6 linked regions of the Homo sapiens genome follow. The protein of the gene in region 1 interacts with the protein of each later gene in a pairwise test. Each region holds a gene or a part of one and is shown in the gene's direction. Other genes may lie near its edges. The genes, in order: FXYD6-FXYD2, SLC19A3, SLC7A8, RNF170, SLC2A13 and TRHR.

Evidence for each region.
Region 2: the proteins of FXYD6-FXYD2 (region 1) and SLC19A3 interact in a two-hybrid assay, tested with the Homo sapiens proteins (one large-scale study listed by BioGRID).
Region 3: the proteins of FXYD6-FXYD2 (region 1) and SLC7A8 interact in a two-hybrid assay, tested with the Homo sapiens proteins (one large-scale study listed by BioGRID).
Region 4: the proteins of FXYD6-FXYD2 (region 1) and RNF170 interact in a two-hybrid assay, tested with the Homo sapiens proteins (one large-scale study listed by BioGRID).
Region 5: the proteins of FXYD6-FXYD2 (region 1) and SLC2A13 interact in a two-hybrid assay, tested with the Homo sapiens proteins (one large-scale study listed by BioGRID).
Region 6: the proteins of FXYD6-FXYD2 (region 1) and TRHR interact in a two-hybrid assay, tested with the Homo sapiens proteins (one large-scale study listed by BioGRID).

Annotation. Positions count from the first base shown.
Region 1 is NC_000011.10:117,821,818-117,824,658, reverse strand, and holds part of FXYD6-FXYD2 (FXYD6-FXYD2 read-through protein isoform 1 precursor), read left to right. Parts: coding exon of another isoform or gene 1-5; intron 6-1,941; coding exon 1,942-1,980; intron 1,981-2,178; coding exon 2,179-2,253; intron 2,254-2,841. Other genes in the region: FXYD2 (sodium/potassium-transporting ATPase subunit gamma), read left to right, coding at 1-5, 1,942-1,980, 2,179-2,253.
Region 2 is NC_000002.12:227,683,263-227,687,028, reverse strand, and holds the end of SLC19A3 (thiamine transporter 2), read left to right. Parts: 3' UTR 1-3,266; downstream 3,267-3,766. UniProt on the Homo sapiens protein: Mediates high affinity thiamine uptake, probably via a proton anti-port mechanism. Has no folate transport activity. Mediates H(+)-dependent pyridoxine transport.
Region 3 is NC_000014.9:23,177,072-23,180,861, reverse strand, and holds part of SLC7A8 (large neutral amino acids transporter small subunit 2), read left to right. Parts: intron 1-3,790. UniProt on the Homo sapiens protein: Associates with SLC3A2 to form a functional heterodimeric complex that translocates small and large neutral amino acids with broad specificity and a stoichiometry of 1:1.
Region 4 is NC_000008.11:42,852,511-42,855,703, reverse strand, and holds the end of RNF170 (E3 ubiquitin-protein ligase RNF170), read left to right. Parts: 3' UTR 1-2,403; downstream 2,404-3,193. UniProt on the Homo sapiens protein: E3 ubiquitin-protein ligase that plays an essential role in stimulus-induced inositol 1,4,5-trisphosphate receptor type 1 (ITPR1) ubiquitination and degradation via the endoplasmic reticulum-associated degradation (ERAD) pathway.
Region 5 is NC_000012.12:39,759,857-39,763,646, reverse strand, and holds part of SLC2A13 (proton myo-inositol cotransporter), read left to right. Parts: intron 1-3,394; coding exon 3,395-3,621; 3' UTR 3,622-3,790. UniProt on the Homo sapiens protein: H(+)-myo-inositol cotransporter. Can also transport related stereoisomers.
Region 6 is NC_000008.11:109,117,332-109,119,861, forward strand, and holds part of TRHR (thyrotropin-releasing hormone receptor), read left to right. Parts: intron 1-1,716; coding exon 1,717-2,124; 3' UTR 2,125-2,530. UniProt on the Homo sapiens protein: Receptor for thyrotropin-releasing hormone (TRH). Upon ligand binding, this G-protein-coupled receptor triggers activation of the phosphatidylinositol (IP3)-calcium-protein kinase C (PKC) pathway.

The DNA of each region.
Region 1 (2,841 bases):
CGGTGGTGAGTGTGCTGGTGTGCGTGCCCGGGCGTGTGCAATGCTGGGTGGCTCTGATTGGCCTGCCTTTGTGGGGTCAGCTGGACCCTACTCTTCCCTCTCCTGCCACCTCAGCCTTCCAGAGTACCCAGCCCCTCTTCCTGTCGGCCTCCTCTCTAAGAAAATTTGCAACTTAAAGGAGGACCCTGCTTTAACCCCAAAGAAAGATAGCTTGAGTGGCAGAAAGGCAGCAGATAGAAGCTGGAGAGCTGAGCGTTCCTCCTCGGCCTCCTGGCACACACCCGCCCTGAGTTCAATGCATCTTGCTAGACCGTCTGAACTTGGGCGGGAGGCAGACGGCGTCCATCTGGCTGGGGAAGGAGCAGGCCCCTCTGGTCAGCCTTCCTAGGCTGGATTTGGGGTGAGAGCCCGCCAAGTTCAAGTCACACTCTCCAAAGGCTTCCTGTCACAGGAACTGACTCAGGCCTGGAAACCAAGAGGGGCACTTGCTGACAGAGGTGGGTTTTGAGCCAGATGCAGAAAGGGGAGGGTGCTGGGCAGGGAGGGTCTCAGCAAGCGGCTCAGGGCCAGGTGGCCACGGAGGAGGAGGTTTCCTGGGGCGTGTGGGGAAGCCTCAGCTGGCGTCTAGCTGTTGCTCTGACACTTAAATCCCCATATGACCTTAAACAAGGCCTGAACCAAATCTGGGAAGACAGCCCTGACGGCCTTCTGTGTGGGACCTGGGTCCTTCATGGCCTCCCTGAGCACCCAGCACCTCAGGCCCGTCAGGATGGGCACTGACTCTTCCTGGCCTGTCCTTTCCTGGCCCAGGGACTGGCCGCTGGGGACAGCTGGGCTTGACAGACCCTAAGTCTCACTGCTGCTCAGGGGCACAGTTTGGCACAGCCCGGAAAGTGCTAACTTGCGCGTTCCTTCCTCCTCGGGCTCCACTTCCCTCGTGCGAGAAGGGGCTCCGGCAGGGCAGGAAAGAGTAGCGGCCCTTAGCTGTGGCAGAAGCGTCCTGGCCAGGCCACCGTCTGGCTGTCCGGGGCAAGTGTACTCAGTTGCAGGGCACCACTGTGAGACCTGCCTGCTGAGCGGCTCCAAATCCGGGGGAGGCCACCAGAGGCAGGGGCAGGACCTTACCTCTAACGGGCTCCTTCCCTCCCGCCATTGAGAGGTGGCAGATCAAAGGGCTTATGCACCTCCATTCTCAGCCCCCTGCTTCCTGGGTTCAAACACCAGCTCTACCCCTGACTTGCTGTATAACTGTGGGGGAATTTCTTCTCTGCACTTCCACCCTCTTGTGGATTACACCAGAATGACATTGACGCCTCATAAGGTTGCCATAATGGTTAGATGAGTTAGGGTTTGTTAGTTTTTGCCCGGTGCCTGACCAGCACTATATATTAATGTTTCTTAACTAGATCTGCTTCCCCTGAGGATGGTAACGCAGGAAAGGAGGTCTGTCTCAGCTTTCATTAGGACTTTGAACAAGTCTACACATTGGGCTCGGCTTCCTCCTTCTGTCTGATAAACTTTAAGGTTCTGTTTTATTTATTCATGCATTTCCCAAATAGCTGCTAAGCACCTGATAGCCAAATGGTCCTGTGGAGAGAGGCCGCTGGGAGTCTAATGGGAGAGGCTTCTCCTGGCCTTTTCTACCATGGTAGGAATCAAGGAGCAGGAGAGAGCCACCCTTCCGGAGTGGTCAGAGGCCCCCCAGACAGCACGGATCCCCCTCGGACACTCGGTATTTGGTCCCCAGTTGAGCGTGTCTGAAGCCGCCTGGAGCAGAAGCCTGCTGGCAATGGTTTTAGCAACACCCCTGCTCCCAGCCTCCCCTCGCCTGCTTGGACCCTCGAGGGTCCTCTGGGAAGGGAAGGACAGGGAATTCCAGCTGTTCCTGTGGCTGGCTCACCATCGGTGACTCCTCTCATCCCACCTCTGGCTCTCTCCTAGGCGGCAGCCCCAAGGGGGACGTGGACCCGTTCTACTATGGTAAGCCTGGGCCCCTGCGCACCCTTCCTGAGCCCTCAGGACCCCTTCCACCAAGCAGCGGCCTCTCCCAGCCCCAGGTCCATGCTCTGTGCCCCTTATCTCCCCTGGTTACCACGGGCTGCTGCGGGCAGGCTGCGGAGAGAGACAGCTGCTGGGAGAGACCACCCATCCCGCTCCTCTTGCCCTCTCTTTCCGGAGACTATGAGACCGTTCGCAATGGGGGCCTGATCTTCGCTGGACTGGCCTTCATCGTGGGGCTCCTCATCCTCCTCAGTAAGTGGGGTGGCCTCCAGGGAAGGGGTGCTGACCAGGGCACCTCTCTTCTCAAGGCCGCTGAGCAGGCTGGCTTTCGGGAGTTGCCAAGGGAGGGGTGAGCCTCCCCACCACGCCCCCCACTGCAGGATGTGGGAATGGGTGCCCGGTGGGGTGCCAGGCTCGCTGGGAGCACAGTGTGAGGTTCCTGCTTGCTCAAGTGCACCCTCCAGTGGGCCCGGGAGGAGCCGCAGAAGTGAGAGCAAACCCACGGGGTAACTGGGTAACCGGAGGGCCAGACAGGGGGACTAGGCCCCCCGCTGCTAACCATGGTCCCAAACTCATTTGTTAAATAGGGATGATCCCACCTGCCTCACAAGATTAGGGCTAGCATCCAAAGACATGGCAGTCAGGACAGCGCTCTGAGAACGGTCCAGTGCAGACTCGGAGTGTTCTGGGGGAGACAAAGAGAGTTATGTATCCTCAAGCCCCGAGGGGCACACAGCAGGAGCTTAATAACTGCACATTGACTTGTTTTGGTCCAACCCAAAGAAAAATACACAGAAAACACAACCCATGGAAAGAAGATACAGCAAGCACACCTGTGGG
Region 2 (3,766 bases), on another chromosome or scaffold:
TAACTGGACTGACCCTATTGCTAGGCTTAAATACTTATTTGATCTTACCAAAGAAGTCAACACATGGGACCTTTGTGTCACATGAACCATTTTCTTTCCTCTTCTATTAAGTGTATTTCTGTTTAAGTTACAGTTCTCTAAGAGAATTACAATGTTTGTCCCATTTCTAAGGGCTTCTCTTCAACTCTAATAACAGCATTATTCACGTTATGATTTGATAGTATTATTATTTAATTTTTTTATGATTATTTTCCATTTTGTGCTCTGAGTTTTGCTGTTGAAAGTCTCCCTCAAGAATAGCTTCAGATCCTCTTGTGTATTTGCAGAATACACAAGGTCATTTCCCAGTGGCCTGGGAGAGGCAGTGAGCCTTCTCTCCACCACCATAGACAGGTGTTAATGCATCTATGGGCCAGGTGCAGTGGCTCACTCCTGTAATCCGAGCAATTTGGGAGGCCAAGGTGGGAGTTTTGCTTGAGGCCAGAGGTTCAAGACCAGCCTGGGCAACACAGTGACACCTGACTCTACTAAAAAATTAAAAAATTAGCTGGGCAGCGTGGTGTGTGCCTGTAGTCTCAGCTACTTGGGAGGCCATGGTGGGAGGATGGGTTGAGCACAGGAGTCAGAGGCTACAGTGAGCTATGATTGCACCATTGCACTCCAGCCTGGGCAACAGAGTAAGACTCTCATCCCCCTCCTCCCAAAAAAGAGCACCTGTGTGGTGTCTGTCTAAAATAGGAAAACTTAAAGGAGGTTTCTAGAAGTATTAGAAATAAGAAAACACTGATGGGGGGAGTGGAATAAAACACCTGATTTTGTTTTGTTTTGGTTTTTGAGACAGTCTCGCTCTCTCACCCAGGCTGGAATGCAATGGCGTGATCTTGGCTCACTGCAAACTTCACCTCCTGAGTTCAAGCCATTCTCCTACCTCAGCCTCCCAAGTAGCTGGGACTATGGGTGCACACCACCACGCCTGGCTAATTTTTGTATTTTTAGTGGAGATGGGGTTTCACAATGTTGGCCAGGCTGGTCTCAAACTCCTGACTTCAGGTGATCTGTCTGCCTCGGCCTCCCAAAGAGCTGAGATTACAGGCGTGAGCCACCATGCCTGGCCAAAACACCTGATTTTTAAATGGTAGCAATTGTGCTAAATAAAATGTGTAAAAATTTTAAAGAGTTGTTAACATTTTTTGATGAATTCTGCTGAAAATTATCTGAACATACCTGTTTTTCGAAACTTCAAGAAACTTCAATAAGGGATGCATTGAGCAGTCTGACAGTGAGAATAAAGAATGCTGAGTCAAGATTTATATTAAGGCTGGAAGCTGTGGCTCACACCTGTAATCCCAGCATTTTGGGAGGCTGAAGTGAGAGGTTAATTTGAGGGTAGGGGTATGAGACCATCTTGGCCAATATAGCAAGACCCTGTGTCTAAAACAAACAAAAAAATTTTTAATTGGATTTTGATATGGTTTGGATCTGTGTCCCCACCAAATCTCACGTTGAAGTGTAATCCCCAATGTTAGAGGTGGGGCCGGCTGGGAGGCGACTGGATCATGGGTGTGAAGCCTTCATGAATGGTTTGGCACCGTCCCCTCAGTGCTGGTCTCATGACAGTGAGTTATCGTGAGATCTGGTAGTTTAAAAGTGTGTAGCACCTCCCCACTCTCTCTTTCTCCTGCTTTGGCCACGTGAAGATGCCTGCTCCCACTTTGCCTTCTGCCATGAGTAAAAATTCCCCGAGGACTCCCTAGAAGCAGATGTTGCCACGCTTCCTATATAGCCTGTGAGCTAATTAAACCCCTTTTCTTACAAACTATCTAGTCTCAGGTGTTTCTTTATAGCAATGTGATAATGGACTAATATGTTTCTCAAGTATACTCCTCTCCAAATCCCGAAATTCTTCACTGGACTAAGATCCAGCCCAAGAATCAATGCACTCACTTAGTGGAGAAAACTAATAACATTCCTACTTACATTAAAGGCAAGGAAGGAATGGCCGCTATTCTTTTTCTTCTTCTTCTTTTTTTTTTTTTTTTTTTTTTTTTGATAGAATCTTGCTCTGTCACCCAGGCTGGAGTGCAATGACGCAATGTCAGCTCACTGCAACCTCCGCCTCCCGGGTTCAAGCAATTCTCCTGCCTCAGCCTCCCGAGTAGCTGGGATTACAGGCGTGCACCACCATGCCCGGCTGATTTTTGTATATTTAGTAGAGACGGGGTTTCACCATGTTGGTCAGGCTGGTTTCAAACTCCTGGTCTCAGGTGATCCGCCCGTCTCGGTCTCCCAAAGTGTTGGGATTACAGGCTTCAGCCACCTCACACCCAGTCTATTATCCTTCTTTTTTAACTTATTATTCTGGAGGCATTAGGCATCACAATTAGACAAACAAGAAAAATCAGAGGTCAGAAATTGGAAAGGAGGCCAGGTGCAGTGGCTCACGCCTGTAATCCCAACACTTTGGGAGGCTGAGGCGGTCAGATCACATGAGGCCAGGAATTGGAGGCAAGCCTGGGCAACATGATGAAACCCTGTATGTACTAAAAACAACAAAATTAGCCGGGTGTGGTCCATGCCTGTAATCCCAGCCACTCGGTGGCTGAAGCATAAGAGTCACTTAAACCCAGGAGGCAGAGGTTGCAGTGAGTTGAGATTGTGCCACTGCACTCCAGCCTGAGCGACAGAGTGAGACCCAAAGTGGATTAAAAAATGCATTATGATTCCTTCACATATTCACCTATAACAAAATTAACTGCTAAAAAATGAGGAAGATCTTTAGTGACACAGAACTCTAAGAGCTCTACTATCAAGTGGAAAAAAGTCAAGCACCAAAATAATAATGAACGCAGCAACTCAGCATTTGTATAAAAAGGACAAAAATATCTGTATTGGCTTATATATGCGTATAACTTTTCTAAAAAGACAAATGAGGCCTGGCACGGTGGCTCATGCCTGTAATCCTGGCACTTTGGGAGGCTGAGGTAGGTGGATTGCTTGAGTTCAGGAGTTCAAAACCAGCCTAGGCAACATGGCAAAACCCTGTCTCTACAAAAAATACAAAAATTAGCTGGGCATGGTGGCTTGCACCTGGACTCCCAGCTACTTGAGGGGATGAGAAGGGAGGATCGCTTGAGCCCAGGAGGTGGAGGTTGCAGTGAGCTGAGATCATGCCACTGCACTCCAGCCCTGATGACAGAGTGAGACCCTGTCTTGAACAAACAAACCAACAATCAAACAAATAAATAAACAACTGAAACTCATACCAATGATTGCCTACTGTGGAGTAATGGGAAATGGGAGGGAGACATCACATTCTCATGGTGTTTGATGCTTGCACCAAATGAATAACCCACCAGTAAATTAAAATACGACTTTTACAAAAAAGCATTTAACCTCTTGGGAAATAAATTCGCATTGAAGAATAAGGAGCTGGAGATTTGCCATGCAACCATTATGATAGTTTTATATTTTTGGCAATGTGAATGGATTACTAAATGTGCATTTATAATTAAAAGGAACAAACAACAGAAGAAAAAAATAAGTGGGCCTGGTTGGGCACCTTGGCTTGTTCCTGGAATCCCACCACTTTGGGAGGCTGAGGAGGGAGGATCGCTTGAGCCCAGGAGTTTAAGACCACCCTGGGCAACATAGTGAGACTCCATCTCAAAAAAATTAATAATAATAAGTAGACCTGACATTGAAAAATTAAATTAAAATTTTTTATTTGGTATCTCAGTAATGAAAAAAATTTTTTAAATAATGACCC
Region 3 (3,790 bases), on another chromosome or scaffold:
AGTAGAGACGGGGTTTCACCGTGTTAACCAGGATGGTCTCGATCTCCAGGTTCAGGTATTCAAGGGTAGAGGGTATTTTCCTATATACTGATGTTTTTGTCTCTTCCTTTAACATCTTTTTCTAAGATTATGAAGAAATGGGAGTGTTCAGGTATAATAAGTACAATTTCTGTGGGTATATGTTACTACTGATTTGTCCACAACCTTATGGATGGTACTTCAATGGGAGAATAATCTCAAAGCTCCCCATGGTGGCATTACAGTAACTAGAATGGCAATTCTGGTGTTCTGTGATGAAAAGAGATTCCAAATATGTGATTTCAGAGAAATTGGGATATTTTTGCAAAACATGAGAATCCTTGTAGAGTTAATAGGCACTATTCTACCCCAACTTAAGCTAGAAACAAATTTCCCCTTTAAGATGATAACAGGGGACAAAATCCATTCTGCTTCCCCTCCCGAGTTGCTGTTGAGTCACAGATGTGCTGAGGAACTGCCCTTTCCTCTTCTGGAGAAGTTTCTCAGTGGATGATCGTGATTCAAGTGTTTTCAAGACCAAATGCAAAAATAGAAATGGCATTTTCTGTGTAGATTTCAGGGATCTGGTGTCCAATGTCAACACTGCAGAAAAAAAGAGAACTAAAAGGCAAAAAAAGGGCCGGGTGCGGTGGCTCACACCTGTAATCCCAGCACTTTGGGAGGCCAAGGCGGGCGGATCACGAGGTCAGGAGATCAAGACCATCCTGGCTAACACGGTGAAACCTCGTCTCTACTAAAAAATACAAAAAATTAGCCGGGCGTCGTGGCGCATGCCTGTAGTCCCAGCTACTCGTGAGGCTGAGGCAGGAGAATTGCTTGAACCCAGAAGGCAGAGGTTGCAGTGAGCCAAGGTTGCGCCACTGCACTCCAGTCTGGGTGACAGAGTGAGACTCCATCTCAAAAAAAAAAAAAAAAAGTCAAAAAGAGAAAGGAAGTTTTCTAAGTGAATCAGGAGACATGTTATGGAAAAGTAGAATTTGTCCCATCTTTCTTTCTTTCTTTCTTTTTTTTCTGAGACAGTGTCTCGCTGTGTTGCCTAGGCTGGAGTGCTGTGGCGTGCTCACTGCATCGCTGCAGCCTCAAACTCCTGGGCTCAAGCGATCCTTCCACCTCAGCTTCCTCAGTAGCTGTGACCACAGGCATACACCACGACACCTAGCTATTTTAAATTTTTTCTTGTAGAAACAGGGTCTCACTGTATCGCCCAGGCTGGTCTCCAACTCCTGGGCTCAAGAAATCCTCCCACCTCGGCCTATCAGTGCTGGGATTACAGGCATGAGCCACCGTGCCCGGCCCCCAGATCTTTTTTTTTTTTTCAGGGACTGTGGCAAAGTTACATTTGCCCTAAATCTATCTCTCTCATACCTTACTGACTAAGAGGGATAATTTAAACTACATGTTTTGTAAAATTTCATTCACAATCAACATGGATGATTGAAAGCAAGGATAACAGAATGGTAGGTGTTATGGAAATATACAATGAATTAATAGAAGACTTATGCCAGAGAGTTCCTTATATCCTGATTGGGAGGATGAGATGCATATGTACTAAACAGAGAACATTCAAAATTAATGACATGGTTTAGTTGTGAAAGAGCTAAAGTAGGGCAAAGTTATGTGAATGGTGGGAAGCCAGGAGAGAGAGGTTCTTACTAAGAACTAGATTAAGAAGCATCTTGAAGGCTTTGAGGAGAAGATGAAGTAGGGGAGCTGATTCTGGGAGTTTTCTTAGGTAAAAGCATAATGACTAAACTGTTATTTCCTAGATCAAAGATTGTGTCCGTAAAAAAAAATTGAACTATGAGAAAAATTGAGCCAGGTGTGGTGGTGGATACCTGTAGTCCCATCTCCTTGATCATTTTAGCCCAGGAGTTTCAAGCCAGCCTAGGCAACAGAGCAAGACCTCATCTTCATTTTTTTTTTTTTTTTTTTTTTTTGGAGACAAGATCTCACTCTGTTAACCAGGCTGGAGTACAGTGGTGCAATCATAGCTCACTGCAGCCTCGAAAGCAATTCTCCCACCTCAGCCTCCCAAGTAGCTTAATAATTTTTAAAATTATTTTTAATTTTTTTTAGAGACAGGGTCTCCCTATGTTGCCCAGGCTATCTTGAACTCCTGGGCTCAAGCAATCCTCCTGCCTCAGCCTCCCGAAGTGTTGGGGTTACACGTGTGGGCCACCGTGCCCAACAAAACCTTGCCTCTTAAAAAAAAAAAGCAAGTGTCTTATATGTTTCTGAATCTTTAGTGTTTAACAGAATGCCTGCTAAGGAATACTTACTCAAATGATTGTTGAATTTAACCGACTCTAGGACAAAAATATGAATAGGAAACATTTATCTGCAGGGCTGCTGGGAACCTGGCTTGAAAATCTTTAAGCTAGGAGTAGTTTTATCAACCTGGACAATTAGGTTGGCCCATTTTAATCTTTTAACATCATCCTTGTCCTAACCTAATCAGGCTTTTGTTCTCCATGTACTTGGCTAAGGAAACCTGTTGGCAGCATATTAATTTAGATTTCACCATGAACGTGGAGTTCCCCCCAAAGTCGAAAGAGGGTGCGGAGGACAGCAAAGTTCATTTATTAATGATACCAGAGCTACTGTTAATAGCTGTGTTTATTAAACACTTAGTATATGCCAGGTACTCATCCAATTACCTAACATACCTGAACTTATTTGTCATTCACAGTAACTCATTTGGTAGACACTTTATTACCTCTTCCTCCAGATAGGAAATAAAGGCTCAAAGGGGTAAGCAACTTTGCTGAAGGTCACACAACTAAAAAATATTGGAGCTAGGATTCAAACCCAGAGCTTGTCTGCATCCTGAATCAAGCTTGTAAGCATTATTCTTCACTATTTCTATTTTTATCTCCTAAAGGAGTATTTTCTTTTAGAATCTGGACAGAGGTCCTTATTCATTTTTATAGATGAATGAATACTTATTGTATAGCAATTAATTTTGTGTTCCCAGTGAGGAAGACTCCCAGTATAGCAGGGGAGCTGGGCTGTCAGCTGGGAGTGGAAGAAAGTAATATTCCCGGTGCAATTGCAGGAAGACTTGGGTGAGCCTGAGGGGCATCTGGCCAGCACAGACCATGCTCGCATTCATTCCTGCACATGCACACCTTTCCTTTATGGACCAGTGTTCTTCCCAGCCGTGTTAGAGGTACCCACAGAGTTCCTGGCCATTTAGGTACTTTATACCAGTCACGTATCTAGGTATGTAACCAGAATCTGTGTCTTGAAGGCATTAAAAGGAAAACCTTAAACAAATTAAATTTAACAGTGTTTAATTGAGCAAAGAACAATTTGTGAATCAGGCAGCCTCTTGAACCAGAACTGATTCAGAGTTTCTGGGGCAGCCTCATGGTCGAAGAAGATTTATGGGCAGAAAAAGGCAAGTGACATACAGGAAATAGAAGCAAGGTACAGAAACAGCTTGATTAGTTACAGCTCTACATTTTCCTTATTTGAACAAGGGTTGGACAGTTGGCTGCCTTTGATTGGCTGAAACTCAGTGAATGGTACAAAAGTAGGTTACAGTCTATTTACACATCCAGTTAGGTTACGTTTCACTACATATGGAGAAATCTTTAAGTGGAATTTAAAATATGTAAGGAGGCAGCTTTCAGCTAAACTTAACAAAGGTGAAAAAGCTGGCCAGAGAGCTGTAATAATAAAATTAAAAAGTATATAATGTCAGACCATTTTGTTTTCAGCACAATTTATGTTTTTGGGGGATCTTGGT
Region 4 (3,193 bases), on another chromosome or scaffold:
GGAAAATTCAGTATTTCTTTTAGTGCTAGCTAAGTTTTGTGCATTTGGAGCAGTTCTGCCTTTTCATTCTGGTATAATTAATTATTTGCTATCAGCTGAAACTGAAAGAAGAAACTTGAACTTCATACTTCGATATCATATTCTAGTTTACAGAACACATTTTAATCAATAGAAGAATTAAGATGAAAAACATGGCCGGGCGGGGTGGCTCACGCCTGTAATCCTAGCACTTTGGGAGGCTGAGGCGGGTAGATCACAAGGTCAGGAGATCAGGACCATCCTGGCTAACATGGTGAAACCCCGTCTCTACTAAAAATACAAAAAATTAGCCAGGCGTGGTGGCAGGCGCCTGTAGTCCCAGCTACTCGGGAGGCTGAGGCAGAAGAATGGCGTAAACCCAGGAGGTGGATTGCGCCACTGCACTCCAGCCTGGGCAACAGAGTGAGACTCCCTCTCAAAAAAAAAAAAAAAAAAGATGAAAAACATTTATCTCCAGTCAGCACACTTGATGTTCACAGTTAGACATTTAAACAAGAGCTCATCCTTTCGTAGTAGATATAAAAGTAATTTGTAAAGGGAAGATTGTTTTAGGAACCTGGGCGATGCTGCAAACACAGAGTAGCCTGATGCATTTCTGAGGAAGGTGAATCTTCGTGTCTTTGAGCATCAAGCCAATAGGAAGGTACTGGGAACGGTATTTACATTTGACAAAAGAAATTACTGGTTAGCTATAGCAACAGATTGGACAAATTTTGTTAGTTTTCTGTTGTCAGAAATTTTTATAATACTGTCTCAGGATGGCAGCACACAGCTCAGATTCATGTCTTGAGCCAAACAAGTGAATGTATCTGAGAAGACTCAGTACCACATGGTACTGGGAGATCTTACTCACTTCAGCTGGCGTTGCTCATTAGTGAATGTATGACAGCAGGATGTGAGGGGATGCCCAGGAGTCAGTGTTAGCATTGTCATCTGAGATCACTGCTATTAATATCATCCATTAATTTATTAGTGAGCTTCACTATATGCAGACTGGGAGATAAGGAGAAAATCTGTCACATTCTCTCTAGCTAATCAGATCAGCTACCAATTAATGAGATTCTGAATGAAATATCAATATGTGTTTTTCTAATTTGGACCTAGGACAGAGCTGTTGCTTGTCATAGAGAAAAACAATAATGCTTAAACATAGCACATTATAATTAAAGCAGGTTTCTCACATACTTTTCATTTTATCCTTTGGATAATTTTGTGAGGAACGCAGGACACCAACTTCCCTTTCATAGATACAATCCCCATGCTATTGATGAAAGTGTTTTTGAATGAAGTCATACAACAAATAACTGATCAAAGTGGCATTACACCAAAATTTCTTAGTAGGACTCCTGCATAGAATGTTTAGATAGACGTGAAAGTTGTTAAGAGGAACAGCAAGAGAGAAACTGGTTCTTTGGAAGTCTTTCGTGCTACATTATACCTCCATCAGAGTAAGACAGCTTAGGCACTCCTAAGAGGAAAGGTCTGTGGAGATGACATGAATCCGAATTCTACACTTCCAAATCAAATAGGTAAAAGGGTGGCATACATCACAGAAAAACATTTCAGCTGCAGTCACCAACTTGAAAAGCGAGTGAGTAGGAGTTTGTCACACTGCCATGTACCAGACTGGAAATGCATTTCCTACCAATTACACATTTGGTGTGGGGGAATGGTGATGTCATTTTTTGACAGGATTTTATTTTGTGTGCATGCATTCTGCTCCAAGTGTCACAATTCTGGTTACAATAATTATAATATTTGGAGTTACTACTAAGACTTTCCTGAAAGAGGTGTATTGTACCAAATTTTGTAACATAAAAAAATACTAAATGATCTTAAAGCTTCCTAAATTGTGAAAAGGGTATGTGCTAACATCTCAGAACTTTAGACCTGCTTGTTGTCATCTTTACCGATCTCTGATGATAAATGCAGAAGGGATCTGAGAGTTTTTAAAGCAAGTAGAGTCAATCAGAGTTTTGAACATCATAGTAATACTTCCGTGATTCAGAGTTAGATCATATAAATCAAAGTAACAATTTGGATTTTTTTTAAACAACAATATCATAACTGTCATAAAACAGATGGTCCAACCCCAGGAGCAGATAATAACTTGGGCAGCTCTGTGGGGAACAAGACGGGGAAAACAACTGTTCTAACTGCCCACTAGAACAGTGGTTTCAACTACTACAATTCTCAGTGTTTGAGAGGTACAAGGGAAGAAAGGACTATGTGGATCCCTTGTGGCTATGCAGATACCTACCTCACAGAGTTGTTGTAGAAGACTGGTGGTTTGGTTCAAACCTTGTGATTAAAGAGTTTGTCAAGCATTTTATTCTTTTGAATAAAAGCAACATATCTAAAACATTTTAAAGGTGTTATTTTTCTGTTTATTTAACAGTTGTTTGCTTTCAGAACTCCTGAAAGAGCATTCAGTATAATGGTTGCAACGGCTTTATCACTAATGGACATCCAATATCTCATCACATTTCTAATTAATTTTGTTAGGTTTTTTATTTTGTTTGTGTGTTTGTTTTTTGGTCAGAGACAGGGTCTCACTCTTGCCCAGGTTGGAGTGCAGTGTTACAATCATAGCTGACTGCAGCCTCGAATTCCTGGGCTCCAGTGATCCTCCTGTCTCAGCCTCCCAAGTAGCTGGGACTATAGATGTGTGCCATCACACCTGGCTAATTAAAAAAAAAAAAAAAAAAGTTTGTAGATACATGGTCTGGCTGTGTTGCCCAGGCTGGTCTAAAACTCCCAGGCTCAGCCTTCCAAAGTGCTGGGATTACAGGTGTGAACCACCATGCCCAGTGCTGAAAATTATTTTTCTATTAAGCAAATAAATTAATTTGCAGACCACAGTGAAAATTTAGTCACGGAGATGTTTTACAAAGAAAAATTCAACATTCAGTTCAATGCAACAAATTTTGTTTTAAATTATATGAAATTCTGCTGGACGCAGTGGCTCACACCTGTAATCCCAGCATTTTGGGAGGCCAAGGCGGGCAGATCACAAGGTCAGGAGTTTGAGACCAGCCTGGCCAACATAGTGAAACCCCGTCTCTACTAAAATACAAAAATTAGCCAGGTGTGGTGGCACGCACCTGTAGTCCCAGCTACTTGGGAGGCTGAGACAGGAGAATCGCTTGAACCT
Region 5 (3,790 bases), on another chromosome or scaffold:
AGCTTCTCTCATCTCCCCGCAATCTCTTTACTCTGTGCTCTGGCCACTTATCATTTCTCTTTGCAAGAACAGGTTTGTCTGCCCTTAGCTCTCTCTAGTAGACTATAAATCCCTGGAGGGCCAGGACTGTGCCTTGTTCATTGTTACATTCCCAGTTCCTGCCAAGGCATCCTGTTCACCTGATAAGCACCAAAAAGTGTTTGTCAAATGAATAAATACATGGATAAATTTTGCAGATGAATGGTGAATATGATGAAACATTATAAAAATCTATTCCCCATCTCTTCTGACCATGCTGAACTGGTATTTGCTTTTAGTTAATGGTATTTATCTAATGCTTTTATTATCTTCATAAAACTCTTCTCTCTCCTAATCACCACTTAAGACATTTGAAATATTTATTTTCTTGGAAAGGAAATGCACTGGCATTTTAAACTGGATATATATTTAGTATATTCAGCTGGATCCCATTTGGCAATTAAAATTTTTCGATAAATTCATAAACTTATCTTCATGACATAATAAATACGAGCACAATAAATATTTCCTCGTATTTACTGATTCTAGAGAACACTTAAATATTTGAAGACCTAAGTATATGCTCGCATCCTGAGAAAGCATTTTTCATAGAAAGGCATAGACCAAATAATAAAAGTTTACATGATTATACTTTTGACAGCAAAGCTCCTCTTTCTTGAATTTATCCTGCCAGAAAACCAGAGAAAAATGAGGCAACAGTAATGAAATTTAAATAGGGCATAAGCAGAATTCTTTCAAAAATAAACAGTTAAAAGTGTGTTGCTTTGCATTAAGCTTCTCTCATGTCAGAGCACTGGTCCATTTGGTCTACTACTCTCTAGTAGTAGAAAAATAGTTCATTCAGGCTAGTTTTTCTCCCTTTTTGTGTCTCATTTTAATCCACATGTTACTGGTTTATGTAAGCTATGCATTTATATTCCTCATTTAATAAATATACATCCTAATCGTGTATTCCTCTGGAAATAGTTATGTCTTCTTTGTTGCCTCCTTTTTTATTGTTTCATAAGATCTCAAAATTTGATTCCTTCCTCAACCATATTGCTTACACAGGTCTGCCTTGTGCCCCCATTCAATAATGTTTATTACTAAAAAGTATCATTGCTATATCACCAATATGCCATTTTATATACAGCACATGTGGCTAAAGAGATCCCTTGGGGGGCATTATGTCAAAGCTTCTCTCTTGAGGTAGTCAATTTGTGTAATTCAATTAAATAGTTGTTTTAATCTGGAACTTAATGTAGGGCTCTAATAAGATTTAAATCCTTAGAAGAATAAAGGTGAGGAATATCTAACTGTTCAATAGTCCTGATGGACTCGTTACAGACATTTTTTCTTGCCATTTTCACTCCAAGGGAGGAATAAATGAGAAACTGAGATAGTGACTGATTTGACCATGACATGGACCAGGTCACAGCCTCCCAGGTCTGCCCACACTCCTCCACGACTTAGCCACAGGTCTAACCATTGGAACCCACACTGAGTAGGCAGTTTTGGCATTTGCGTGCTTTGGATTCCTCAGATTTTGTAAAACGGTCTTGTATTTTAATAGCAATTCCTTGATATTATTCAGCTTTGGGAATCCAGGTCACAAGAAAGAATCTGTAATCAACTTCAGGAATCTTCCTAACCCAACAAATGTTTTTTAACTATAGGAGTGAGTTTAGCGCTGACAGATTTGATTTGTTACTTCTAATTATGCTACTGTTCCCAAATTGTGAAAGATAATGATGAAGATAAAATATACTATTATATTTAAAAGTCAAACTGGGTTTGCTGTTACAGATTTTGTAGTTTAGAAGCCTAGTTTAATCTAAAATGTTTTACCATCTGTACTTATTTTTTCTTTATCTTCATCATAATTACTATCCCGTCTTTGTCCCTCCCTGCTAAAGATTCCATTTCTCTTCCTACCTCCACAGTCTTGCATATCTGTACTCAGAACACAGGACTTCATCTCCTTTCATTTTTTTTTTGTCAAAATTCCCCCATTCTCCAAGAGCTAGCTTATCAGTATCACCCTTTTTGTAAAAACATCCCAATTAATTAGTCACACTAATCTTATTCTGTATCTTAATAGCAACTCTTCCTTTCCTGGTCATTTAGTAGAATTTAACAATCTGGGCATCACTTTTTTGAGCAACTGATATTCAGAATTCTAATGGGCATGATAACATACATTATTTCTATTCTTTACAGTTGGGCAAAGCTAGAATTATTTTCCCCATTACACAGATCAAGTCTCTCTCTCAACCATCTCTTAACTATATCTCCTATACATGCCCCTGATTTTGGCTGTAAGATTTACAGAATCATAAACTGCCAACACTTAAGTAGGAGCTGAGAAGCCCCCTTATTTTACTTAATGAGGCAACAGAGGCCCAGAGAAGAGGTTAAATGACTATCCAGAAGTCACATGGCCAACACTTAAACTCAGTTCTTCCCACTCCCAGTCTGATATCCTTTCTCCAGCCAATTGTCACATTAGTTTTTCATCTTACTTCCCCCATCTCATACACATGATGGTCTGGACTGAAAGCCTAAAATTAGACAGGGGCTCCATTTTACTTTGTTGTTTTCCACCATCAAAAGTACAAGTATAGTTTCTTATATTCAAATTGGCAATTCAATTATGTGTGTGTGTGTGTGTGTGTTTGGTAGAGACAGGTTTCACCATGTTGGCCAGGCTGGTCGGAATTCAATTATTTTAAAAGTCCATCTTGGAAATGTGTAGAGAATATAAACAAGTCATACATTCATATATCTCATCCATCTAGGCTTGCTATCATGACCCTTAGAAAACCAAACTAGCTAATATTTATGTGTTTCTGGCTGTTCTGCATTGACATGCATAATCTTACAGCAAAACAAAATTCTCTGACTTCATGGAGTTTACATTCTAGTGGAGGGAAATGAAAAACAAATTAAGAAAGGAACTTCTTCTGACCTCAAAGTGCCTCTAGTGTAATAGACAAGGCAAGCATACGTGTGTGTACATAATTATAATATTTCTTGGTTGTTATTTTAGGGGTCTCAACAACATGCTGTGATAGCACATGGAAGAGAATAATTCCCTCTAGTCAGGGAAGGGAGGAAAGGCTTCAAAGCCAAACTTACATCTGAGCCTGTTCTATTATTCTTGAGTTTCTAAACTTGAGTTTAGAAAGATACATTACATCATATTCTCAGAGTTGGAACAATTGGAGTAAACCAGGTTCATAGTAATTTTTTGGTCCATTTCATACTGTGATTATGCATGACTGACCAGAAAAAAAAAGTCAAAATCAAGTAATCTTTCCAACTTAAGCCTCTCTCTATATATTCATATTCATGTATCTATTATATTCCGTTGCAGGAGCTTTCTTCCTCTATGCTGGATTTGCTGCTGTGGGACTCCTTTTCATCTATGGCTGTCTTCCTGAGACCAAAGGCAAAAAATTAGAGGAAATTGAATCACTCTTTGACAACAGGCTATGTACATGTGGCACTTCAGATTCTGATGAAGGGAGATATATTGAATATATTCGGGTAAAGGGAAGTAACTATCATCTTTCTGACAATGATGCTTCTGATGTGGAATAATTTTCAGCTGCTCATATATTTAGTTATTTAAACAAACTGGGGGGAGAAGAACAGCAATTGGTGACTTCACTGCCCTGCTTCTAATCTGGTTCTTTCCACAGCCTAGTTTTGATTGACTTCATATTCTAGAATACTTGATTAGGAGGAAGATACAACCATGATGACTTTT
Region 6 (2,530 bases), on another chromosome or scaffold:
ATTACCTAAACCTCAATTTCTTCACATGCAAAATGAAAAGAATACTAGCTTACTCATGGAATTACTATAAGTATTAAATAAGATAATGTTTATATGGCATTTTTCAGATTACTTGGGCCATCTTAAAGGACTAAAATGTGATGGTATAGATCTAATTGTAAATTAAACTAGGTATTTCAATGTAGGATGCTTTACCCCTGACAGGGAGTGGGAGAATGTTGACAAGTGTGAAGCAGTGATCTGATTTCAGAGTGCCTGGAGTACCAAGCAGAGAATAAAGGCAAGGGTGTGGTTCATAATGACGAAGATCATGGTGATGATGACAATGAAGATGATAATCACTACATCTCCTTCCAAAGCTTAGAACATTTATCACTTTGATTTCCTATGACTAATTATTTACTTATATATATTTTTTAAAGTCTACTTAGGAAAAATCATGTTTCAGTTAACCCCTTTGCTAAGTAGACCCTCTTTGGCTCTAAAAGAAGTCAGAATCTCTGGAATGTCTTAGTTGGTATTATATGAACCAGTGTGAAATCACATATTCTCACTGAACAATTTTTCTACTCCTAGTGGTAAGATACGTAGCCTTAATATCCTACATACATTGAGTCAGAATGAAGCTCAGTGAACAGTGAGCAATCTGGGATATTGACCTCATCCTACCTATTGTCTTACTTCCTGTGCATTGCTTATACTTAGGAGTGGCTTCAGCATTAGGTAAAATTCCAGCATTTGCTTTCTCTCTCTTTCACTTCCCTTTAACCTGAAAGAGTGCAAAAGCTTTGAATTCAAGCTCACTTGGACAGTAATCCCAGCCCTGAGACTCTACAGCTTCCACCAAAGTACTTAACAGCCTCTGTACCTGTTTTCTAATTTGAAAAAGTAGTGGGTACAATACCTATTTTAGGAGGTTTAAAACTTTTTAAACATGGTAACAAATAAACACCTTGGATAGTGTCTGGCACATAGCAGTCACTAAACATTCAATAAACACTGACTTTTTTGCATTATTCTTTTCATGCACTGTTACCTCATTTGATTTAGGAGGGCAATGTTGGCTCCATTTTACAGATGAGCTATAAGATAGGTTAAGATAATTTCTTAGGCCACACATAGGGTAAGTAAGGAAAGGATTTGACCCTAAGTCTCCTAATGCTTGTCACAGACACTTTTGGTGCCCTGTGCTAACATTCTCTTACAAGACTCTGATTTCAGCCATAGCTGCAGTAGATGGTTCCTGCAGTGGGAAATATCCCACTTCAGGCATCCACTGTACCATTTGTCTCTCCTCTTCTTGGCCTCAAGTGTCTCTCTAAAGGCCCTAGGAGTTTTCAGGCAAGAGAATCCTGGAAGTACACAGGAGTTAAAGTCCTTAACAATATCCTTTAATGAATGGACGCTGGCATTCATTCTCTTACTTCTGACAGATAATTCTCAATTGCATTACTTGAGCCAGAGTTGGCTATAGGGGGAGCTATCTCAATAACACACTGCTTTGGCTTTTCCTACTTTGGCTTTTCCTTGTCTATAGCATTCTAATTGATAACCCTTAATCCTGCTTCCTGGGATCACCTCCCCAATAAATGACCTGCACCTAACTCCTTGTCTCAGACTACATTTTGGGAACTAAAGGTTTGGGTGAGAGAAGAAAGGGGGTTTTGTTTTGTTTTCATTTGTGTTTGTACAGCATTTCTCTCTATTTCTCCCTAGGTCACCAAGATGCTGGCAGTGGTTGTAATTCTGTTTGCCCTTTTATGGATGCCCTACAGGACTCTAGTGGTTGTCAACTCATTTCTCTCCAGTCCTTTCCAAGAAAATTGGTTTTTGCTCTTTTGCAGAATTTGCATTTATCTCAACAGTGCCATCAACCCGGTGATTTACAATCTCATGTCCCAGAAATTCCGTGCAGCCTTCAGAAAGCTCTGCAACTGCAAGCAGAAGCCAACAGAGAAACCTGCTAACTACAGTGTGGCCCTAAATTACAGCGTCATCAAGGAGTCAGACCATTTCAGCACAGAGCTTGATGATATCACTGTCACTGACACTTACCTGTCTGCCACAAAAGTGTCTTTTGATGACACCTGCTTGGCTTCTGAGGTATCCTTTAGCCAAAGTTGATTCATGAATTAGAAGAAAATGGATGACAAAGAAAATGAGAATCTGTGCAGTCATCAACAAAAGGGAGAACATGGCCAATAGTCATATGTGAAGACAGAGCAGATCAGTCTTTGTCAATGCTCTAACAAATTCTGGCCCTAGATACTTTAACCCATGAGGATGATTCAGACTTTCCTTCTTACAAACTAATATCACTAAAAATGGAGCAGATCTGTGAAATAGCTAAATGATGGAAACTTAAAGTTTAGCCCTTTTCATTTAACTTAAGAAATTCACTATATTTTCTGGACTTATAGAGTTTCAATAAAATCTAGACATCAATTTACATTATTCATAGTAACCTTATCAAATGTCACTTTTCAACTTCCCTAATTTATTTATACATTCGATAATTTGACAACATGCA